Homo sapiens: one gene and its partners. The protein of the gene in region 4 purifies or fractionates together with the protein of the main gene of each other region. This does not show direct contact. Each region holds a gene or a part of one and is shown on either strand. Other genes may lie near its edges.

Region 1 (3,500 bases), on a different chromosome or scaffold from region 4:
CCACTGGTAACATGTTCAGAAAGCACAGGACAGGTCTCTTGCTATAGTGACTCAGCACAGACCAATAATACATGCAGCTTTTAACTGTGCACCTACTGCTCCAGTCAGCATGTCATACATTAATGCTCCCAAACTCCACCAATCCACAGCACGATTGTGGCCACTTCTCATCAAGATTTCAGGGGCCCTACAATGAGGAAAATAATATGCTTAAAAATTCACCCATTTGCATATCATCTGAATTAGAATTTTAAAAACAATATACAGAGTCAATGAGGGTACAGAAAACAGATACTATTCCTTAAAACAGGTAAAATTAGCTATTACCCCCAAACCAATTATGTTTAACATGTAGCTCACATGTATTCTATTGTTCCACAAAATGTGTGTGTGACTGTTCCATCATGAATAGATTCTTTGCATAGTCCAAAGTCTGTTAGTTTCACATGACCTACAATGAAAGATTACAGCATGATTATTCTCCGAATTATAAGTATGTGCAGTGTTTGAACATGTCACATAATACTTTAATCTATCCTTCCATTTAACTTTTCTTGCCTCAAATTTTCTTGCAGATGTCAAGAACAAGGTACCATCCATAAAATGGGATGCTAACTGTTTAAGGCTAGGGCAAAGTCACCTTTTGCCAATGATACAATCTATCTAGTAAAGAGAAAATAAAGATAGAGAAAAAAGTGAAATAACCTGTTTAAGGCTCTAGCTTTAAGTATATACAAAATTCTCTACCATCCTGAAAAAGAAAAATCCTGGGAAAACTGTTTTATGAAGTCTAGTTTACGTACACAGACCCCAATAAACATACTCTGTACCTTTTGAACAAAGGTGTGAGACAGTACTTCAAATATATAGCTTTTATCACAGTGAACTGTGAAGAGTCCTTAAAATGGTCTCAGAAACTCATTATAACAAGGTAGCTCATTCTGCCCAATGCTACCAATTAGGGGAAAGAAAGAAAATTGCTAGATAGTATGAATCAATCATCACTGATCCAGAAAGTAAAAAACTTACCACCTTACACAAAGATCATTTCAGTTCAAGTTTAGCTTTCTTTACTGGACTGTCATAACAAGTGGTTCAACAATCTCAGGGACTCTAGTATTTGAGGTTCATTTCACAGAAAAGGCACAATGACCTATTGATTCAAATGTAAATATATACTACACTCTGATACAGAAGAAGTATGGCCTTTATTTTCACAGAACCATCTGATACACTCAACCTTATAAATCAAAGAAGTTAACTATTCTATCGCTCCCCTATTCTATCCTGTGACTTATAATTCAGATCAGAATCCACGTTTTGGGGAGTGAGGAGGTGTTGATGAGAGGAAGGAAGAGACACTGATTCCCATGATATATTCAGTTAAGTATATCATTTCTCCTTAAAAAAAAAAAAAAGGTGGGTGGAGGAGTATAATCTGGAATGTTTATATGAGCCTCAGTTGTTCATACATCATTTTCTAAGAGTTTGAAACAATTAACTACCTCATGGATTATTCTGTAGACATCTAAGGATTAGCAGCTGCTACCACCTTCTAGATACCCTGGGTCAGCTGGTTGCTCCTTTGGGGTACGAGTGAATTGCCAAGTCTACCTACAGCCCAGATTAGCATAAATTGAGCTGTCTTTAGCAGCATGCAGTTGTAGTCAAGGCTCACTGTGCTATATCTATAGTTGTATAGATTATCAGTCTCTCTGATGTTTATGTTTGTTGTTACAAACAAACAGCAAGAATAAACTGATTCTGGCTGGGGGGAAGGTGGGTTATGCCTGTAATCCCAGCAATTTGGGAGGCCAAGGCAGGCAGATCAATTGAGCTCAGGAGTTTGAGACCACCCTGGGCAACATGATGAAACCCCATTTCTACAAAAAATACCAAAAATTAGTCAGGCGTGGTGGTGTGCCACAGTGGCCCCAGCTACTTGAGGGGCCGGGGTGGAAGGATCACTTGAGCCTGGGAGGCGGAGGTTGCAGTGAGCTGTAATCATGCCACCATACTCTAGCCTGGATGACAGAGTGAGACCCCCATCTCAAAAAAAAAAAAAAAAAAGTAACCTGATGCCTACTAAACATCATATTTCCAAAGTTTTATCAAATACTTTGGTTCAATTTCAATCCTTTTCCCAGCATTAATAAAACCTACTGTAAGAAGCATAGCTTCTAATATTCACATATTTTCTTTTTTTTTGAGACGGAGTCTCGCTCTTTTCACTCAGGCTGGAGTATAATGTCGCGATCTTGGCTCACTGCAACTTTCGCCTCCTGGGTTCAGGCGATTCTCCCACCTCAGCCTCCTGAGTAGCTGGGATTACAGGCACCCACCATCATGCCCAGCTAATTTTTTTTTTTTTTTGTATTTTTGTAGAGATGGGGTTTCACCATGTTGGCCAGGCGTCTTGAACTCCTGACCTCAGGTGATCCACCCACCTTAGCCTCCCAAAGTGCTGGGATTACAGGTGTCAGCCACTGTGCCCAGCCAATATTTACATATTTTCATTATTAAAACTCAACTTATATAATTGAGATTCACTTTTCAATTTAAGTAACAAGCCAAAATTAATGTTTAGACTGGCTTTTACAGTCTAAAACATTATACAACATTTGATGTAAAGATTCCAAAAACATGAAAAACTATAAAGAGTAAGGATTAAACTAAAAAAGGCAGTTGAGCGACTATTATCCTCAACTTCTTTTACTCTCACCAAGCGTAATTACCTAAAGACTTAAAATATCAGCAAGTACTATGATGCCATGAATTCTGAGGGAGGAAATATACAAAATAGAGAGATGAATTTGGGGCTTTGAAAATGGCCACGACCTATGTGGGAGGATTTTAAGATGATTATTTACTATAGAATTGTTTACGGTATGTCTCCACCTTGGTGATTAAGCATGATATTCTCCGGCTTCAGGTCTCTGTAGATGATCCCCTTTTGATGTAAATGCCCCAAAGCCATGGAGATTTCTGCCAAGTAAAAGCTGGAAACAAAAGTGATTTAATAAAATTAAAAAGAGTGTAATCTATCCAAAGCAGTTTACGTATGGAGCAAAATTCCTTGAAAGAAACAGACATGCACCAAAGACCAAATTAGTGGGGTAGGGGGATGTATTGGAAAAAGAGATGGCATAGGATGCTGCCAAAAGGCATGGGGACATTTATGTTTCACTCATTTTAGTGAAACTATAAAGTGCTTTATTTTGCCATTAGAATATATTGCTAAAATTGCAAAGATGTCCAGAATATGCTAAACTGCCATTGGTCATGTTTTGTTCTGTCTGTGTAGGAATTAAGCTAATAGCCATTCATTTCAAGCAAATTTCTCCCATCCACACCCAACTTTAAAATCCCATAGGAAATAGGAACTTTGTTATTCTCAGAGATCACATCTTGATTTCAAAAGGTATCTTATAACCTGACCCTTAGAAGCCCACTCATCCCTTACTTAATACAGCTACATATTTATAGACAGCTGAGGCCCA
Region 2 (3,500 bases), on a different chromosome or scaffold from region 4:
GTGATTCTGCTGTCTCAGCCTCCTGAGTAGCTGGGATTATAGGCGCCTGCCACCACGCCTGGCTAATTTTTTATATTTTTAGTAGAGACAGGGTTTTGCCGTGTTGGCCAGGCTGGTCTCAAACTCCTGACCTCAGGTGATCCACCCACCTCAGCCTCCCAAAGTGCTGGGATTACAGGCGTGAACCACCATGCCTGGCCTCAATGGCTATTCTTTAAACAATGTTTGTAAACCACAGCTGCACAATGCATGCCTAAGAGCGTGTGTTCTATAGCAATGAAAATACAGAAAATACACTCACTGGGAGGGCTCTTAGAGGAGGTGCTCTCCTTAATCGCCGTCTCAAACATTTCGGGCCTATAGACAAAAGAGAAAAAAAATGTGCTGATCAAACAGTAAAACTCTAACATTAAAATTTAAACAACTCAAAGATTTACAAACCAGTAACTCTGTAAAGTCTAAATTCAATTCTTAGTCATGAAGAACAGAAATCACATGCTTATCTAAAGAACCACAGCCAAAAAGACAAACCACAATTGTAAATTTAACATCCATTGCTGCCTCTCATTGGCTGCCCTTCCCCTACACTGGTTTTATTGGCATCTTCTTTCCAAGGTTAGAATGTATCCTGAAAAGAATCAGCGCCAGAATTGAGGATGCAAAGAGAAAACGCCCCACAAACGCAGCATGGAAACACAAGATGGGCTGTGAAAACAGGAGCACTTGAGGCTCTCACTCCGGAAGCAGAAGCAGAGGGCTTAGAGGCTGCCAAACCTCTGCAGACCTGGCCAAAAGCATAAAAGGTGGCCATTGGCCGGGCGCGGTGGCTCACGCCTGTAATCCCAGCACTTTGGGAGGCCGAGGCAGGCGGATCATGAGGTCAGGGGTTTGAGACTAGCCTGACCAACATGGTGAAACCCCTTCTCTACTAAAAATACAAAAATTAGCTGGGCATGGTGGCACATGCCTGTAATCCCAGCTACTTTGGAGGCTGAGGCAGGAGAATCGCTTGAACCCAGGAGGCGGAATTTGCAGTAAGCCGATATCACACACCACTGCACTCCAGTCTTGGGTACAGAGCGAGATTCTGTCTCACAAAAAAAAAAAAAAAAAAAAAAAAAAAAGTGGCCAGCTTTGCTTGAGAGCATCCCTGGGTGACTCAAAATTAAGCCTGACACCAAGCAAATGAAACCTAAAATTCATTTCAATTGATTTCAAATAATTCATGTGCATTAGCATGTACTATAAAATTCCAATTATTCTTATTTCTTTTTTTAATTTTTTTTGAGACAGAGTCTTACTCTGTCATCCAGGCTGGAGTGCAATGGCACGATCTCCTCCGCCTCCTGGGTTCAAGTGATTCTCCTGTCTCAGCCTCCCTGAGTAGCTGAGATTATAGGTGCCAGCTACCACCCCTGGCTATTTTTTTTTTTTTTTTTTGTATTTTAAGTAGAGATGGGGCTTCACCATGTTGGCCAGGCTGGTCTCGAACTCCTGACCTCAAGTGATCTGCCTGCCTTAGCCTCCCACAGTGCTGGGATTTATGGCCGCACCCGGCCCATTCCTATCTATTTCAATTATGTTAGCCTAATCCACAGATGTTCAAGCAAACAGGAGAAATTGAAAATATTCTATTAAGTTGGAGAAATAAAAGGACTTGAAAAACTAAACAGCTGCTCAGATTCCAGCAGCATCAAATAGTAACAACATAGCTGTGTAGATTTAGCAACCAAAAGTCGTTATCTCTCTAGTATGGTGGAGTCCTCCTTCCCTTCTACCAGCAGCATAAGGAAAATTTCTTCTTCTTTTTTTTTTTTTTTTTTGTTTTTGAGATGGAGTTTTGCTCTTGCTGCCCAGGCTGGAGTGCAGTGGCACGATCTTGGCTCATTGCAACCTCTGCCTGCTGGGTTCAAGTGATTCTCCTGCCTCAGTCTCCCAAGTAGCTGGGATTACAGGCACGTGCCACCACGCCCAGCTAATTTTTGTACTTTTAGTAGAGATGGGTTTCATCATGTTGGCCAGGTTGGTCTTGAACTTCTGACCTCAGGTAATCCACCTGCTTTGGCCTCCCAAAGTGCTGGGATTACAGGTGTGAGCCATCGCACCTGGCCAGAAGTTTTAAACATATACAAGAGTGCAGCTTAAAAAGCAGTTTTTCTGACTCCAGAGCTAATTCAGCCCTGCCACAAACACAAACCCACATACCCATCTCCCAGTGTCAAACACAATCAACTCATGCTAATCCCACTTCATCCAGTTTCCTTACTTTTTAATGATGAACTTAATTTTGGCTTTGTTTCTGAGTATCTTCTCCAGCCTCGGAATGCCAAAAGTCGATGGTCTTCGGAATGGCACACCCTCAGGTAAGCCTTCCACATAAAAGTCTTCCGGGAAAGACTCAAATAACGCGAACGGCACCTTCACAGCTTGTTTAAGGCCAAGAGCTTCCCCTGCAAAACAGCCGCGTACACGAAACAGAACATGGGCGAAATGACGCCATTCAATCCCGAAAAACCCACACGTTGCCAATGACAGGGATACTCCAACGCTCAGTATCCCACTCTGCTCCCTCCTACTCCCATGAAGGCACCCTGCGTGGCAGTAAGAAGGTTTCAAAATAGACTTACCACATTTCTCATTGAAGAGATTTTCAACTTTCTGTTTTAGGTCCGTGATTTTGGCATTCCAGGCCTCTGCATATAAAACATAAGAGAGTTAAATTGCAATACTTATCACAGTACTTATCAATACACATTCACAGGCAGGAGTGTTTCATCTTATTTGTGCATCTTATTTTTTTTTTGTTGAGACAGAGTTTCGCTCTTGTTACCCAGGCTGGAGGGCAATGGTGCGATCTCTGCTCACTGCAACCTCCACCTCCTGAGTTCAAGCAGTTCTCCTGCCTCAGCCTCCTGAGTAGCTGGGATTACAGGCATGCGCCACCATGCCTGGCTAATTTTGTATTTTTGGTAGACACGGGGTTTCTCCATGTTGGTCAGGCTGGTCTCGAACTCCCAACCTCAGGTGATCCGCCCACCTCGGCCTCCCAAAGTGTTGGGATTACAGGCGTGAGCCACTGCGCCTGGCCTTATTTGTGCATCTTTAAGAAGAAATAAAAAATGCATAATCTTTTACCATGATATGACTTGACAACTACTCCCATCCTGATACATAAGCAAACTGTTTTAGTACATTGCTTTTATGTTGACTACAAATAAGTGAACAAATGCTAAAATAAAGAAAAAACAAATGAAAACCCCCAAAATGCCCCCACAAATTATAGTCTCTACTACATGCGAGGTATGGTTCTAAGTACTTTAAATGACAGTATTTATAATCCTCACCATAACCTCATGAGAAAGAAAGTAATGTTATTACCATTTTGCACAAAGGGAAACTGAGGCAGGGTGTATTCGCCTGCCCAAGTGGCATCGGATTTGAACTCAGATCTGAACTCAGGCAGCCTGGCTCTACGGGCTATTCCTTTAACCTTTGATATA
Region 3 (3,500 bases), on a different chromosome or scaffold from region 4:
AGAAATCAGGGGATTCTTTAAGACACTTGAGAAAGGACAGCAGATGATCCAAACCTCTCCGGCCCCACCTCCCAGCCTAGGGCTCTTTCCTGGGCCACCCTCCACCTCTCCCATCAAATTAAATCACTTTCCTACACCTGACAGCAGCCCACTGTCATAAAGCAAGTAACAAGCCGAAGGTCTGTGTGGGAGGTTGATTTGGGAACACTGGATGTACTTAATGTGGAAAGAACCAGGAAAACTCCATCCAGATGCCATGGAGATACCAAGGGTGGCCACGACGCCAGGGGACCCAGGAAGAACTTCGTCTCCTTCACTCACCTGGTCCCCTTCTTGTTGGGCACTGTGTATGGGCGGAGAAAATCCAGCTTGTTCTTGCTGATGACGCAGAGGTCAATGTTGCTTCCGGAGCCCAGGTCGTTGAAGATGCCAGCTGCGATGGCTTCGCTCACCAGATTCTTGGCTTCCTCCTCCTGAGAAACAGAACGGCGGCAATAATGTCCCCGGCCAAACTAGGGCCTGCTCTGACATCCGCAATGTACGTCCACTAGCAGTGCGCAAGACCTCCCGCGAGACAGGTGTTGTTTTTAATGCCCATCTCACAGATGAGGAAAAGATCTCAAAGTACCTTGATTATTTACCCAAAGTTCCCGACCCAGGCCTTTAAAACTTTTTATGCATGCACCGCCTCTTGACCACATCAGACAATCACCACAAAACGATGGGCTGACAGTTACTAGAGGGTTAGTAACTTATCTTTAAAAGGGCCAGGTAGTAAATATTTTAGGCTTTGTGGCCAAAAGTCTCTACCACACCTACTCAACTCTGTCACGCTAGCACAAAACAGCCACACACAAATACATTAAAAAATGGGTATAACTGTGTTCCAATAAAACTCTATTAGCAACAGGCAGTGGGCCAGATCTGGCCCACTGACTGCAGTTTACTAACTATCCCCTGATCAAGAATGTCCAACAATAGCTGAAAGTTACTTGAGAAAGTCAGCACTGTAGGAGGAAGAAACTAACACCAAAACACAAGCCGGTAGTTCTGGGGAAATGCTGGCAGACCAAGGGCGGGACCTCTTGCCCAGAATAATCTCTCTCTCCTACTAAGGAACCTATAGGTTCACTGAAGTAATCCATTACTTTGAATCACTCTCTCCTTTGCCCCACCTTTAAACACAAATCCCCATCCCTAATAGTTACTGGTGAACAGATGGACTCATCCCTTTCTTATCCGAGAAGCCCCATCACATGCTATGTCCTATCACATGCTATACCAGAAGCTAGGGCTGCAGAGGTGGATGACGCCCCCAGATCCCTGCCCCCTAGGGGCTTAAGAGTCTAGCAGGGGCACCTGACCCAAGTAAGTACAATGCAGGGTAAGGCTGGCTAAAGAGCACGTGAAAAGGAGCTGGGAACACAGCTGGTCAGCAGAGCTTCAGGGAGGGCTGAAGGACAGGCTGCACACGAGGCACTCAGAAAACAGCAGTGAAACAGAAGGCAGGCAGCAACGGCAGTGGTACTGGACCTGGGGAACACCAAGTTCAAGCTCTATATACAACGAGGACAAAAATGAACCAGGCTCCCTGAAAGCAGGGAATCTAACCTGTGCTACGGCGCCTTCCCAGTCCACGAGGGCGTGAGAGTACATACACATGCAAGTGCACTCCAGCGCTCACCCAAGCAACACCCTTGGAGAAACACGGACTCCAGGCCCAAATCCAGCCTGAGACCCTCAAAGGGCAGATCCGCTAACCTCAAGTTTTCAGAAGATCTGAACCCACTGGGGGCTCCTGCTCCTCTGCCTGCCCCATGCCAGACTAGGATTCCAGTGACATAAGCGCCCTCTACAGACTCAGAAGGACAGAGAAGGTTCTGCTGGAAGTGGGCTCCTCAGCAAACCAGCAGATAGGGGTTCCTTTGATATTTATACCCCAGGTTTTTTCACTCTCACGTGACATCTATGTGGGGCCAATGAAGCCAATTCTTCTTTTGTACATATGCAGTCCTGTAAGAATGCATTCAAACGGGATCCGCTAATTAGGAATTTTCTCCTGGAATTCTCAACAGTCTATGGGGCCAGAAGCTTTCCACAAACCAGTGAAGGTGGCAGCAAAGAAAGCCTCTTAGACGAGGAGCTGGCAGCAGCTGCTATCTAGATAGACAGCAAAAACCAACCACTAATTCAGCAAACACAACCTCATACCTAACCGCTTCCCTTTAAATGGCCTTCGGTGTGTGCGCACATGGGCACGTGCGGGGAGAACCATACTTATTCCCCTGTTCCCGGCCTACCACCTCTGCTCCCCCTTCTCTTCTCTACCATTTAACTGTCTCCTCTGCTTTGTTTCTTATCACTGCTGCTGGTGTCTAGAGCCAGCCAGCAGTACCTGGCAGACATCGCGACCCTGCGGGCAGCGCTTAGGACTGCACATTTACATTTCCCAAATGATCTGGGTAGATGGGGACAGGTGAAGACTTGGGGAAACGGAAATATACGAATGACATGAGACATGCATATCTAGTGTCAATCCATTCGACTGGGCACAGGACAGCAGACTGCTGACAGTGCTATGTAAGATTATGAGTGATCCTCCCTCTATTTTGCAAACAGTCTGTAAGTAACTGATAAAACTTTAAAATATGCAAATTTTAAAATTATATAGTTTGATTTACTCATCAAATTATCATGTATGCTGTTATTTAAGTATGAATAAAGGCTTTTTTAAATTGGGAAAATACATCTTTTAAATTCCTTTCCTCCCCACCAATTCTAGGGAAGATCATTCCTTAAGGAAGAAAATCTCAAGTTTCTCACTTTTTTCCCCCCAGTCCCACTCCATGTCTCATATACACATGGCTGAAGATGTTAGGAGATGGAATGAAACTTAGATTTATGGAGCACCTATATGCTCACTAAAACAATCAATCAATCAACATCTACCAGCACTCTAACGTGCCAAGCCCTGAGTTGGGCACTTTGATGATCATCATGTTCACCCCTGCCCCCAACCATCTTTTGATGTTGGTATGGTCAGAAACTCTGGCTGACGGTCAATGACTTACACAAGGTCACACAGCAGGTAAACAAAAAATAGTAAAACAGGCCCATCAGGCCCCAGAGCCACAAGGCCGCAGCACCACACCAACTCGCAAGTGACCTTCCTTGGGCCGGGGGCTCCTCAGCTAGTCCCTGACTCAAGGCTGTGTCATTCACGCCCCACCACCAAAGAGCCTTAAGACCTGGGTAAATTTAAGAGGAGGAGGATGGTGTTTGCCGGTTTCTCTCTGGGCCAACCAGCAGCTCCTCTGATGGTCACTCCCATTGGGGGTTGGAGGGCAGTGTTTCCCAAAATACCCAAGACTACCACTTCAAGGGCCTTCTTCATTCTCAACCAAGTTAGGGCAACATCTCTACAATGCAACACCAGATCAATATTAAGATCTAAGGTCTTATTTAACATATCCCTCCCTTAACACCCCAAACCCTCATAA
Region 4 (3,500 bases):
CACAGGACTTAATACTAATATAGAGCTTTAGAATTTATTGAGAGCTTCCCATAAATTATTTCACATCAAAACTCTGCTTTGAGGTAGATATTTCTGTTTACCCAATTTATTGATAAAACTGAGACTCAAATTAAGTAACTTCCTAAAGTCATTTCAGGTTCATACTCAGGGCAGACAGGGCATAAACCTACTTTGTCTAACCAGAAGTTCTTTTTGCTCATATATTTGTTCATCTATAAACTTGTGAGCTACAAGCTAGCAGGTTCTGTCTAAATCATGTAATACATTACCAAGGCCCGAAACACATTTTAATGTTTCTTGATAGTGATAATGATAACAACAAGGCCGTCTGCCGTTGCCACCAACTACACTTTTAAAAATAAATTTTTCCACTAATGCCGTCTTTTATTTTCTACTGATAAGTCAACAAGCAAAACCCCCTCACATTAGGTTCTGAGGAATGCCACAACAGAAAACAAGGACGATAAAAATAGTTGCAAAAAATAACCCGTTACTAGAAAGTTCTAATGCTCAGACTGTCCAAGACAATCAATGACTCATGAAAGAAAAAAGTAAGATTTACCTTTAACTTAAGAGATTCTCCAAGTAAGGTTCCCTTATAATCTGTTGTATAGGTCCAATCATATGGTTTAATAACCTCTTTGGAGTGTTCACCCTCCGTCCTCAAATACCAAAATGAGAAGGATCAGATTCAGTGATGCAGAATAGAGATTATCTGTATTTATATATCACATCAAATTATATTCTATAATAACATATCCTATTAAATATATACACTTGTTATAATTCACCAGTACAAGGTTTTTCTTACAGTTTTTCTGCATTTATTATTTAACTTGTCATGTACTGATGTAGTCTTTTCAATTAGTCTGTATACAGCCTGAGGACATGGTTTAAAGGTTTATACTTATTTGTATCATCTAAGGTACTTAGTACATATTAGGCACAAAGTAAATAATTGCTGATTTGACTATCAAAGAAAAACATGTTGTCTTAATTTCAATGCTTCTCAAATAGGGTATTTATTAAGCATATCATAAGTAAACATTTTTTCTTAAAAACAGGAACATTAAGTATAGCCTACTGCCTCTTCAGTAAGGAACACTGAAAAATCGAAAACGTACATAGCTCAGCTCAGTTGTAATTCACTTTAACAAGTATTCAAGCAGTGGGGTAATTAACTTCCATTTTTATGTCTGAGAAAAACGAATTCTAGAATGATACAACTCTCAAGTTTAATAATACCAGCCCTTCATTCTAACAACACACACGTATCATTACTGAATATTTTTTCAAGTCTTTTCTCTTTTGTTTAACCTAATTACCTTTTTTGTTTAACCTAATTGACCGGATTCTCACCTGCTTTCTTGCCACTCTTCAGCACAGGCCACTTTAAGCATTCCTTGGTAGTTGTTTACACATCTTAACGCATCTGTAGCATTGAACTCAATTCCAAAGCCAGACCCATGCTGGATTCTTAAAACGTTGTCTCCAAACATCATTTCAGGGAGAGATGGCATATGTAATTCATCGGCTAATCTATACGTAACCAAAAGTCGGGTGAGATAATTTTATATCGCTGTTGGCATTTTTGTTTCTTTTCCATCCCAACAGAATTCTTCCTACTTGCTGAATGAGTTACACAGCACATGATTTAATCAATATGATATATTTGCAAGGTCTATAAAATGCTTTCATCATCCATTCTTTCATCATCATATGGCACTGTACTAAGTAGTGGGCTAAATAAGATAAATATACAAATACGTAATATAATAGCTTATTATACTACTATAATATATAGCACACAGATATTACTATAATATATATCATGAGGGTATGAAGAAAAGATAGCAAAGCAATTAAAGATACTGTCTCTTGTAGGAAAATAATTTTTCCATTAAAATTCTCAATTGTTAAAAGTTTCAAAACGTGGTGATGAAAAAAGCAAAAGCACCTGACACTGATGAGGGAACTCAGCACTTGCCTACACAGACTTTCAGAAGGATTGTGTCAATTTACATTTCACCCTGGGGCAACAATCAAGCAAAAAAAAAAAAAAATCACAGGAATTTAACATAATTTACACACTTATGACCCAAAGTATCAGTTTTAGAATACCTGTACTAAAGAATAATTCCAAGTACAGAAAAATATTATACACATTAATACTTATAATGGCTTTACTTATAATCATGAAAAAGAAATACTCTGAATGTTTCATTATAAAGCAACAAATGATTATGCAAACCAAAGTATATCCATATGATGAAATATTATGGAACCATTACAAATGTTTAAAGAGAGACTATAATAATATGAAAAAATGCTTATGATAAAATAGTAAGAAAAAAACTGGACACACATTGTATATTTATTACATCTAAACGTGTATTTCTGTGTGCACATATCAGTGATCTAACTTTGAGGTGCAGGTCTTCAGGACTGCACAATGTTAACAATGGTCTTCAGGACTAACAATGTTAACTTTCATCATAATTTTAAGTAAAATTTATTCTTTGTTATTAGGAGATAGAAAATATTAAATACTTAAAAGATTAGATACAATAAACTGTAATTGGAATATATATTCCATAAGATTCCATAAAATAAGTTTTAACTTGAATAATGCATACCAAATGTGAAATAATATGTGAGTCTGTGGATTCTAACCAATATATCTGGAAAAATGTGGCAGTCCTATAAAATATTCCACTCATATATGTAAAAGAATCACTGTTACTAATTTACAGTCCTTCAGTGTTCTAAATATAGAGTTTCTTAAACATAGGCCAAAATGCCCTCTTTTTTTTTTGAGACGGAGTCTCGCTCTGTTGCCCAGGTTGGAGTGCAATGGCACGATCTTGGCTCACTGCAACTTCCGCCTCCCAGATTCAAGCAATCCTCCTGTTTCAGCCTTCCTAGGAGCTGGGATTACAGGCACGTGCCACCATGCCCGGCTAATTTTTGTATTTTTAGTAGAAACAGGGTTTCACCATGTTGGCCAGGCTGGTCTCGAACTCCTGACCTCAGGTGATCCACCTGCCTCGGTCTCCCAAAATGCTGGGATTACAGGCGTGAGTCACCGCGCCCGGCCTGAAAATGCCCTATTTCTAACATCATCAAGCTTCCCACTTAAAAACAGGTATAACTAGTTACAAGGAGAGAAGACAGGAAGCTCCTGTGGTTTTAAGGTGCCTTAAATATTCATTAGAAGAGCTTCTTTAATCCAATATTTTACCCAACCAATTTATTTAGCACCTTAGTGGTTTTTACAATCTATGATAATGCATCACAGAAAAATTTGGGATTGGTGAGGGTAAGTCTTCCTTTTGTCATATAAAAAAAGGCATTTTTTTTTTTTTGGCGGAGGGTGGGGGACGGAGTCTTACTCTGTCATCCAGGCTGGAGCACAGTGGCACGATCTCAGCGTACTGCAACCTCTACCTCCCAAGTTCAAGTGATTCTCGTGCCTCAGC
Region 5 (3,500 bases), on a different chromosome or scaffold from region 4:
ACAGCGAGACCCTGTCTCAAAAAAAAAAAAAAAAAAAAAAAAGAATTTGCACAAGTAGACCTGCCATGCAAGAAACACTAAAGACAGTTCTTCAGGCTGAAATGAAAAGATACTAGACAGTAACATGAACCCACATGAGGAAATAAAGGGTGCTGGTAAAAGTGATTGCATAGGCAAATAGAAAAAATAGTACAGAAGTCTTTTCCATTTCTAACTTTTTTCTCTAAAAGACAACTGCAAAAGCAGTAATTCTAAATGTGTTGATGGACATACAATGTACTGAGAGGTAATTGTATGACAGGAGCACAAGGGAGAGGAGAAGGAACGGAATTATAAAGGGGCAAAGTCTTTGTATAATATAATTAAAATGGCATTAGCCACACAAATTTTTTTTAAATTAAAAATAACTAAACAAACTGGCATTAATCCCTAATAGATGATTATACTAACATGTTAAGTTTATCCCCCAAAGACAACTACTAAGAAAATAACTTTAAGAAACTTCAAGGGATTAAAATGGGACACTGGAAAATACCTATTTCAAACAAAAAGACAATAATGGAGTAACAGAGGAATAAAAAAAGACATGACAGAAAACAAATAACAAAATTACCTTATCAGTAATTATGGTAAATGTAAATTGGTTGCATACTGCAATTCAACACAGGGAAATCCTTTATTTTAACCTAGACATACCTTGGTTATTTCATCAGATATGCTATATTCCAAGAATCTCAAAAGAGTTAGATAAATGCGGAATTTGTTCAGCACGGAAGGCAGCACCGCTGAGAGAAGGCTGTTCATGTACTCCTCCATGTTTGGTGGAATTAGCTGGGGCTGTAAGTGAATCTGGCAGTCTGCCTGAAAAGAGAAGGAGTACACTGTATTTTCTGAGTTCCTAAATTAATCTACATTTTTAAAGAAAGATGCATCATCTCTGTCAGCCCCTATGGGAATTAGAAAATACCACTTATTATTTAGGGGGAGGGAATAATGTTTTTTTTTCTGTGTGTGAGACAGGGTTTTGTCCTGTCACCCAGGCTGGAGTGCAGTGGTGTGATTGCAGCTCACTGCAACCTGCTTCCCAGGCTCAAGTGATCCTCCCACCTCAGCCTCCTCAGTAGTGGGACCACAGGTGCACGCCACCATGCCTGACTAATTTTGGATTTTTTGTAGAGACAAGTTTCGTCATGTTGTCCAGGCTGGCCTCAAAGTTCTGGGCTCACGCAATCCACCTGCCTTGGCCTCCCAAAGTGCTAGGATTACAGGCGTGAGCCACCGCAGCCAGTGAGCATCTATTTTTAATATTAATTTACATGCTTTATAACTACCTCAGAAATAATTATGAAAGCTTTTTCTTGGTTACTTATGTTTCCTCAATGGTATCAGTAAGCACACAAAAATGTAGCCAACCTCTAAAAAGCAGCTAATTAAAAAGGTCTATCAATACTTGCACACAGAAAACATATCCTTGAGCCATTTCATTCTTAGTCAAAGGCGGTTTCTCATCAATCGCAGGTGAATACTATTATTCAGAGACTACACACCATTTGACAACTGGGAGCATTTCCCATCATCCACAGAATTAAAAGCTCTCTTTACCAGCCACTCTGAAGACATACCAGAGCATTTCACCACAAAGCATGAAAATAACTACCAAGTGACCAAGGACATTTTAAAAGAACTCTGAAATATTTTTCACATAAGATTAGCAGAAAACAATGGGTCAAAGGTAGCAAGAACAGAAGTCTGGATGTTAAAATCAGGCAATCTCGCTATGCTCAGATGTGGGTGTTTCTGCTGCCAACAGCCTTGCTGGTCTCATGACTTGCTGATACCTGAGCTTGGTAGATGTAAGGTTTTCATCCATGGCAGTGCAAAATACTCAATTCCCTTAATGATCAGCAGTCACAGTTTTTTTTTTTTTTTTTTTTTTTTTTTTTTTTTTTTTACAACAAATGTAACTTATTAATAAGCGGTACCAAGAAACAGCAAAAATGTAGGTATTTTTCCAATGTCAACCTCCCTCCATTTAAAAATGACTCATCATACCGGGAGGAGTGACCTCCCCTCCGAAGTAATGAAAACGTTAATATTGCAGGGGAATTCCATCTGATGGTAGCTGAAGTCATAATCCACCTTCTGCCACGTTATGAGGTTGCTCAGGGCTGTCACATTATGAACACCTACAAAGGCAGGAAAACACTTTCAGTCATTTGACTTTAATCATCTAAACACATCAGTTTTGCTGACACCGATGATGAGCCATGAAGTTTCTACCACTTTTAATAAAGGGTATGAGGCGCTGTCCAGTTTACTAAGCTAAACGTCACTAAGTGTGTAGGCTTACAACAGTCTTGGTCAAGGTAGAACTTTCTGGGGGCAGGCGATACCCCCGCAAATCTAATACCTAGCATCTGGTATGCACCTAGACATAAAATAGTTCCCAAGTATGATTATTTCTAAGTGGTGTATTTACAGGGCTAAACCAAGGAAACACTAAAACTACCGTCATACATAGATCAGCCTAGTGAATTTTACAGATTTTATATTCCCCTTTGCCTTAAACATGCCCAGTCTACCTCATTTTTTCTTCTACCTTTACCTCTTGAGCTGATCGCCAGCAGTGTATTCTTAATTGTCTTCATTTGAGCACTGGTAAACAATCTGCTTTCTTGTGATTTTATAATATATTCCGCAACTGAGGTTAGTGCAAACCATTTGATCTATTATTTCTCAGACATTCTCTGAAAACCATTTACAAACTTTACAACGGGAGGTTAAAACATAATTAGCCAGGCGTGATGGCGGGTGCCTGTAGTCCCAGCTACTCGGGAGGCTGAGGCAGGAGAATGGTGTGAACCCGGGAGTTGGAGGTTGCAGTGAGCCAAGATTGGCCACTGCACTCCAGCCTGGGCGACAGAGCAAGACTCCGTCTCAAAACAAAAAAAAAATTATATTAGATCTTTTCTACACTTCCCTTTTGAGGTATTAGATGACTAAAGGCAAAGCTTCCTCCCATTTCAGCTTTTTAAAAAGCTATTTGGGGCAGGTGCAGTGGCTCACACCTGTAATCCCAGCACTGTGGGAGGCCAAGGCAGGAGGATCACTTGAGCCCAGGAATTCAAGATCAGCTGGGCAACATAGCGAGACCCTGTCTCTACCATTCCTTACACTCACTGAAAAAAAAATTTTAGGTTATATACAACTACGCAAAAGAACCCAACACTGTAGGCCCATAAAGACTGCTCCAACCATTCGCTGACACAATAAAACTTTTCACCAAAGAACCCTTACGACCCTCAACATCTAATACTACCCTTTATATTACTGCTCCATTATACTAATACTACCCTTTATATTATTGCTCCATTATATAATATATAAAATATATAATATATGATATATATTAAATGAGACATTATATATTATATATGATATATATTATATAAGATATATTATATAAGATATATATCTGTTCCATTGTACTACTTTCAGAA
Region 6 (3,500 bases), about 56 Mb from region 4:
TGCCATATTTATCTACCAACTCTTACATATCACTGAGGGCTCCTCCTAGAGCTGTGAACTCAACACCAGCCTGTCTCACCTGAGTTGGGCATGCTCCTATGGCCAGGAGCTACTTGTTGCAGGAAGCTATAGGTATATATAAAAAGAGCAGATTTACTTTTACAGAATTTATTACCTATGCACTTGATTAAATTAGAGCATTAAAAAAGACAACTCTTGGCTGGGCACAGTGGCTCACCTGAGGTCAGGAGTTCAAGACCAGCCTGGCCAACATAGTGAAATCCCACCTCTACTAAAAATACAAAAATTAGCTGGGCGTGGTGGTGTGTGCCTGTAATCCCAGCTACTTGGGAGGCTGAGGCAAGAGAATTGCTTGAACTCAGGAGGCAGAGGTTGCAGTGAGCCAAGATTGCACCACTGCACTCCAGGCTGGGCGACAGAGCGAGACTCCTCCTTCTCCTCCTTCTCAAAAAAAAAAAAAAAAAAAAAAAAAGACAACTCTTGGTAATTGTTGTTAAAGCACAGCTTCACATAATATAATACAGGTACGATTAGGTACTGATCTTCTCGGTTACCTGTACCTATTCTGACCTTACAGTTAGTGAGGCTTAAATATTAAATCACCCTGAGTTTAGAAAGTCAAACCTCTGCTAGGATATTAAACTTCAATCCAGACAGGCATCAAATGAGTTAACAGCTATCTTATTCAGCTGCCTGTCTACCCTGACATCAGCATTAAAAATCTACTTCTGGGCCAGGTGCAGTGGCTCACGCCTGTAATCCCAGCATTTTGGGAGGCCGAGGCGGGTGGATCACCTGAGGTCAGGAGATCGAGACCAGCCTAACCAACATGGAGAAACCCCGCCTGTACTAAAAATAGAAAATTAGCTAGGCGTGATGGCGCATGCCTGTAATCCCAGCTACTCGGGAGGCCGAGGCAGGAGAATCACCTGAACCCAGGAGCCAGAGATTGCGAAGAGCCGAGATCATGCCATTGCACCTCCAGCCTGGGCAATAAGAGCAAAACTCCATCTCAAAAATCAATCAATCAGTCAATCAATCAATCAATCAATCAATCTACTTCTGCTTGGCTATTTATATTCCAAAACACCTGCCATTCTCTCTAGTTATAATTTTTAGGAATTAACCCAGCCTGGGCTGGGAGGTGGAGGTTGCAGTTAGCTGAGATCACGTCACTGCACTCCAGTCTGGGTGATGGAGTGAAACTCTGTCCCAAAAAATAATAATTATTATTATTATTAATTTTAAATCTTTCCTAAAACTGCTGTTTGATAATTCCTAGTTATATCTTATGTTACCATTGAAGGAAAAATAACAATAACCATGTTGCCATACACTCTACATGCTATCCTTTATCAACTCAGAATAGCTCTCTCTGTTTACCACCCCAAGAAGGAGGCTTCTATTTCTATTCACTGCCATCAGTCTCCCTTTGCATCTACACATACTTGGTCCTTATTTAATACCAAAGCAACCTGCACATGTTTTAAAGATGTGAAGTTTTAAGTCTATAAACATGTTGGAATCTCACCTGAATCTTAAGCACGCCAACCACCTGGGCTGTAGGTGGTGTGATGGTGAACTTCCACTCTGATCTCCAACGACCATTCCTATTAAAACACACACACAACATTGCAGAATTAGCAATAAGCACAAGAAAGAGGTGATTTGCCACTGAGGTACAGAAGTTGGGAAAGAGGGGTGCAAAAAAAGAAAAAAAAAAAGAGAGAGAGAGAAACTGTCATTTCCAGTTTGGCAAACCCAAAGCTCTGTCTACTCAAATGTAAGTCTGGATCTAAGTGGCCTGACCATAAGCCTTTTCTAAGTTATTTTGTCTTTCATTTTTCCTTTTTTCCCTTGAAATGGAAAACCATGCCTATTCTGCTCATGGGAGGCTCTTCCAAAATCAGATGAATAGGCTGCTGAGTTACACAATTAACTCAAGTAGCAGTAACCCTAAGCCAAGTAAAACTCAGATTTTCAACAGGGCACTTTACTAATCACTTGTTCTCACTCAAAATAAGAGTAACTTTTAAAGGAAAATATAATTATAAAACCTTAGAACTGTAAGGAATCTAAATCCCTCATTTATAGATGGAAAACTGAAGTCTGTAAGTTAAATAATTATTCCAAGCTAGTTGGATTAAAAACCAAGTCTCAACTGCTGGTTTCTTTCAGATGTAAATAGAAGAGAATATCTACTTCTTACCAGAAGTTTTTAGGCTGAAACTGGTGGCTTTCAATACATGCAATAATAGTCTGTTGCCCATCGATAGTTTTAGCATAAACCTATTGTTGGGAAAAAAAAATAGTTAAAGACTCCAAACACTTTTAATTTAAACAACATGCATTGTACAAAAGCAGAGTGTTAAATCCTTGGGGGAGACAAAGAATCACATAAAATGAGCTTAGAACACAATAGTGCACATGGGATATGAAAACAAAGCAGAACATGTTAGGTTCTACCAGAGACAGTGATACAATGAAAACAGAGGGAAATACTGCTCTTGGTTTGGGGTACAAGGCGGGTGCCATTTAGGCTGGGTCATACAAGACAGATGAGATTCTGATAAGCAGAGACTGAAAATAAAGGCAAGACAGGAAACTAAGGACTTGTTCAGTGAACAAGACTGTCAGGTTTAAAGGGTGTGTGTGAAGTGGACTAATGAAAGACAAAACAGGATGGTAGATTTAGGTCATGTAATAGTAGATGTAAAGTAAGAAGTTTAAGATTTTATTCTATAGGCAATGGAGAGACAGCAAAACATGACTAGAACTAATATTGTGGGAGAATAATCAATACTGGTATTCAAGATAAAACGAAGAAAAGCTGAAGCTTGGTTAGGAGGCCACAGGATTAATCTAGGCAACAAGTCAGAGTTATATTAATGGGAATGGAAAGGAAGAGTTGCACACAGAATGTAGAAGTACAATCAAAGTCTAGCAGTATATTGCAAATGATGGGCAAAGGAAAGAAGGAACTCAAGAGTGACTAAAAAGATGGTGGTGTCATTAACAAACTGGAAATTACAGATGGAGATGTCTAGTTAGTAGTTAGAAACACTAACTCTTCTTTAGTGTGGGAGAGGTGAATGGAAATGCAATCACCAAGGGAAAGTAAGAAAAAAAAAATAGCGCTTTATAGTCCACAAAATATGTTCTTACATGTATTTTCTTTTTCCTCTAATAAATCTGATGAAATACAGTGTTATCTACAGATAAGAAGTTGAAGTTCACAAAGCTTCTTGCCTAAGGTCACTCAGGAAGTGGTAAAGGTAGAATCCAAACCCACTGTTTTTGTGACACCGAAGTCTGTGTTACTTTACCTGCATTAAATGAATTATGAACTTTGGGGGAATGCCTACATTTACAAAGGTAGGGGAAAAAAAGAACTTAGTATAGAGTAAGAATAATTAGGGGGCTGGGTGCAATGGCTCAAGCCTGTAACCCCAGCACTTTGAGAGGCTGTGGCAGGGGGA
Region 7 (3,500 bases), on a different chromosome or scaffold from region 4:
TGCTCTAAGCAGAATAAATACAAAGAAAGTAATAGTGGCTAGAGAGGACATACCATCTTAAATTGAATAATAAAACTTACAGCTGACTTCTCAACAGAAACAATGGAAACTAGAAGACAAGGTAAGCACTTATCTACCTACCTACCTACCTACCTATCTGAGGCAGGGTCTCACTCTGTCACCCAGGCTGGAGTACAGTGGCACAATCACGGCTTACTGCAGTCTCAACCTTCCTGGGCTCAAGAGGTCCTCCCACCTCAGTCTCTCAAGTAGCTGGGACCACAGGCGTGTGCCACCATGCCCGGCTAATTTTTGTATTTTTTTGTAGAGACAGAGTTTTGCTGTGTTGCCCAGGCTGGTCTGGAACTCCTGGGCTCAAGTGATCCTCCTGCCTCAGCTTCCCAAAGTGCTGGGATTACAGGTGTGAGCCACCACGCCCGGCCCTGATGGGAAACTTTATAATAGATGGATCCATCTGACAATATCTGAACTCCATGATCAACCTTAACAAAGCAAAAAGAGATGACCAGCTATTTTGTACCTTCTGAGAAGATGCAATAGGATGTATAGAAAACAGTATTTCCCCAACCTCAAACCTATGGCTAATTAAGACTAGATCTAACTACTTATTTTCAAGAAGTACAGGAAATAGAAGACATATTAAACAATACCATAGGTATATAATCAGCAACTGCCAGAATATAGGAAACTCTACAGGACAAACAAACCAATTTCTTCAACAAATAAATGGCAGGAAAAAATAAATAAATAAATAACTGACAGGGCACAGTGGCTCACGCCTGCAATCCCAGCACTTTGGGAGGCCAAGGTGGGTGGATCACCTGAGGTCAGGAGTTGGAGACCAACCTGGCCAACATGGTGAAACCCCATCTCTACTAAAAATACAAAAATTACCTGGGCGTGGTGGTGAGCGCCTGTAATCCCAGCTACTCAGGAGGCTGAGGCAGGAGAATCACTTGAACCCGGCAGGCAGAGGTTGCAGTGAGCCGAGATCATGCCACTGCACTCCAGCCTGGGTGAGGAAGCAAGACTGTCATAAAAATAAAATCAAATGGCAGGATTAAAAGAAGAAAGAGAGAAATGAGGCAGCAAAAACAACACATTGAAGTAAATTTAAAGCCAGATGCTGTGGTGTGCACCTATAGTCCCAGCTACCTGGCAGGCTGAGGTGGGAGGATCACTTGAGCCCAGGAGTTCTAGTCTGTAGTGTGTTATGATCACATCTGTGAATAGCCACTGCACTCCAGCCTGGGCAAGATAGCAAGATCTTACGTCTTAAAAAAAAATCCTAATTTACATATTAACCAAATGCAATGTGTGGACCTTGTTTGAATCTTAATTTGAAAAAATTGTAAAAAGAAAATAATAGGTCTGGCATGGTGGTTCAAGCCTATAAGTCCACCACTTTAGGAGGCCAAGGCTGGTGAATTGCCTGAGCCCAGGAGTTTAAGACCAGACTGGCCAACAGAGTGTGACCCATCTCTGCAAAAAAAAAAAAAAAAAAGAAAGAAAGAAAATTAGCCAGGTGTGGTGGTGCACACCTGCAGTCCCAGCTACTCAGGAGGCTGAGGCAGGAGGATCACTTGAGCCCAGGAGGCCAAGGCTGCAGTGAGTTGTGATAGTGCCATTGCACACCAACCTGGGTGACAAAATGAGACCCTGTCTCTTTAAACAAAAAAAAAAGAAAAGAAAGAAAACACATACATACATATATGAGGCATATCTGAATAATAACAGCATATTTTATGATATTAAGGACTGACAATATTTTAGAGATAATAAAGATATTTTATTTATTTATTTTTGAGACAGAGTCTTACTCTGTCACCCAGGCTGGAGTGCAATGACACGATCTTGGCTCACTGCAACCTCCACCTCCTGCGTTGAAGTGATTCTCCTGCCTCAGCCTCCTGAGTAGCTGGGACTACAAGCGCACGCCATCACACCCGGCTAATTTTTAGTAGAGACGGGGTTTCGCCATGTTGGCCAGGCTGGTCTTGAACTCCTGACCTCAGGTGATCCACCCGCCTCAGCCTCCCAAAGTGCTGAGATTACAGGTGTGACCCATCACACCCGGCCCTTCTCACTCTTGTAAAGGCACTCTTACTGAATTGTCCAAAGGACAGATACCTCATAAGAAATATAGATGACTAAAACAAGAAGGAAAATCCAGCTACTCACAATACTCCTTCACCTCTTTGTTCTCCAATCACTACTTGCACCACCATTTTGTATCGGTCAAATCCCATTTCTAGAAAGAAAAAATAAGGTTATTTATAAGCAAATATGTAGTAAAATTACTTATTGAAGACAAATTTGCCCAGAAATGGACATAAACATTCAATCCACAAGTACTTAATGAATATGGTGGTAAGCTTGGGGGTCAGGAGGACGTGAAGGCAGATCCTAACTATAACTCAGCAAGTGTATAACCTCAGAAAGTAATTTAACTTTTCAGTTTAAGTCTCCCTTATTAAACAGGAATATCAGTACCTACCTCCCAAGATTGTTATAAGGTTAGGTAAGATATAGTAGTATCTTTTTTTTGTTTTGTTTTTGAGATGGATTCTCACTCTGTTGCCCAGGCTGGAGTACAGTGGCACGATCTCAGCTCACCGGCAACCTCTGCCTCCAGGGTTCAAGTGATTCTCCTACCTCAGCCTCCTCAGTAGCTGGGACTACAGGTATGCATCACCACACCTGGCTAATTTTTGTATTTTTAGTAGAAAAGGTGTTTCACCATGTTGCCCAGGCTGGTCTCGAACTCCTGACCTCAGGTGATCCACTCACCTTGGCCTCCCAAAGTGCTGGGATTACAGGCGTGAGCCACCGCGCCCGGTCAGATATAGTAATATCTAAAGCATCTAAACAGTGCTGTTAAATACTAGTCCTTCAATAAACCTTAGCTTCCTTCCTTTTTCCCCTACTATAAGTCAGCTAGTGAGCTGAACCTTCAAGATAGAGAAATAAATAAGACGTTTTTCTTGCCTTAAAGAACTCACAGTAATAAAGAACTCAAAGGAAAATAGAAAAATAGGCCGGGCACGGTGGCTCACGCCTGTAATCCCAGCACTCTCAGAAGGTGAGGCCAGTGGATCACCTGAGGTCAGGAGTTTGAGACAAGCCTGGCCAACATGGTTAAGCCCCGTCTCTACTAAAAAATATAAAAATTAGCCAGGCATGGTGGCAGATCCCTGTAACCCCAGCTACTCGGGAGGCTGAGGCAGGAGAATTGCTTGAACCTGGGAGGCGGAGGTTGCAGTGAGCTGAGATCGCACCATTGCACACTAGCCTGGGTAACAAGAGCAAAACTCCATCTCGAAAAAAAAAAAAAAAAAGAAAATAGAAAAATAAATTATAAATTGAGTATGCTTATAATTCAAGGAGTGGCATGTATGATGTACATCAGGAACACAGAGCCAGTGGGGGCAGTTCCTCTGTTTGTCTGGGCAGTGGCAAGAAATCACTGGAAAAGACTT

The links.
Region 1: the proteins of TIPRL (region 4) and RPS6KB1 fractionate together in Homo sapiens (co-fractionation; one large-scale study listed by BioGRID). This does not show direct contact.
Region 2: the proteins of TIPRL (region 4) and GTF2I fractionate together in Homo sapiens (co-fractionation; one large-scale study listed by BioGRID). This does not show direct contact.
Region 3: the proteins of TIPRL (region 4) and PSMB7 fractionate together in Homo sapiens (co-fractionation; one large-scale study listed by BioGRID). This does not show direct contact.
Region 5: the proteins of TIPRL (region 4) and MCMBP fractionate together in Homo sapiens (co-fractionation; one large-scale study listed by BioGRID). This does not show direct contact.
Region 6: the proteins of TIPRL (region 4) and CAPZA1 fractionate together in Homo sapiens (co-fractionation; one large-scale study listed by BioGRID). This does not show direct contact.
Region 7: the proteins of TIPRL (region 4) and DYNLT2B purify together in Homo sapiens (affinity purification with mass spectrometry; one large-scale study listed by BioGRID and IntAct). This does not show direct contact.

Annotation. Positions count from the first base shown.
Region 1 is NC_000017.11:59,931,121-59,934,620, reverse strand, and holds part of RPS6KB1 (ribosomal protein S6 kinase beta-1), read right to left. Parts: intron 3,000-3,500; coding exon 2,899-2,999; intron 452-2,898; coding exon 361-451; intron 188-360; coding exon 97-187; exon of another isoform or gene 93-96; intron 1-92. UniProt on the Homo sapiens protein: Serine/threonine-protein kinase that acts downstream of mTOR signaling in response to growth factors and nutrients to promote cell proliferation, cell growth and cell cycle progression.
Region 2 is NC_000007.14:74,748,218-74,751,717, reverse strand, and holds part of GTF2I (general transcription factor II-I), read right to left. Parts: intron 2,694-3,500; coding exon 2,628-2,693; intron 2,451-2,627; coding exon 2,267-2,450; intron 358-2,266; coding exon 302-357; intron 1-301. UniProt on the Homo sapiens protein: Interacts with the basal transcription machinery by coordinating the formation of a multiprotein complex at the C-FOS promoter, and linking specific signal responsive activator complexes.
Region 3 is NC_000009.12:124,356,443-124,359,942, forward strand, and holds part of PSMB7 (proteasome subunit beta type-7 precursor), read right to left. Parts: intron 2,745-3,500; exon of another isoform or gene 474-2,744; coding exon 322-473; exon of another isoform or gene 1-321. UniProt on the Homo sapiens protein: Component of the 20S core proteasome complex involved in the proteolytic degradation of most intracellular proteins. This complex plays numerous essential roles within the cell by associating with different regulatory particles.
Region 4 is NC_000001.11:168,181,962-168,185,461, reverse strand, and holds part of TIPRL (TIP41-like protein), read right to left. Parts: intron 1,561-3,500; coding exon 1,381-1,560; intron 684-1,380; coding exon 584-683; intron 1-583. UniProt on the Homo sapiens protein: May be a allosteric regulator of serine/threonine-protein phosphatase 2A (PP2A). Isoform 1 inhibits catalytic activity of the PP2A(D) core complex in vitro. The PP2A(C):TIPRL complex does not show phosphatase activity.
Region 5 is NC_000010.11:119,834,844-119,838,343, forward strand, and holds part of MCMBP (mini-chromosome maintenance complex-binding protein), read right to left. Parts: intron 2,187-3,500; coding exon 2,053-2,186; intron 862-2,052; coding exon 697-861; intron 1-696. UniProt on the Homo sapiens protein: Associated component of the MCM complex that acts as a regulator of DNA replication.
Region 6 is NC_000001.11:112,657,832-112,661,331, reverse strand, and holds part of CAPZA1 (F-actin-capping protein subunit alpha-1), read right to left. Parts: intron 2,311-3,500; coding exon 2,231-2,310; intron 1,632-2,230; coding exon 1,553-1,631; intron 127-1,552; coding exon of another isoform or gene 97-126; exon of another isoform or gene 80-96; intron 1-79. UniProt on the Homo sapiens protein: F-actin-capping proteins bind in a Ca(2+)-independent manner to the fast growing ends of actin filaments (barbed end) thereby blocking the exchange of subunits at these ends.
Region 7 is NC_000003.12:196,304,741-196,308,240, forward strand, and holds part of DYNLT2B (dynein light chain Tctex-type protein 2B), read right to left. Parts: intron 2,273-3,500; coding exon 2,203-2,272; intron 1-2,202. UniProt on the Homo sapiens protein: Acts as one of several non-catalytic accessory components of the cytoplasmic dynein 2 complex (dynein-2 complex), a motor protein complex that drives the movement of cargos along microtubules within cilia and flagella in concert with the intraflagellar transport (IFT) system.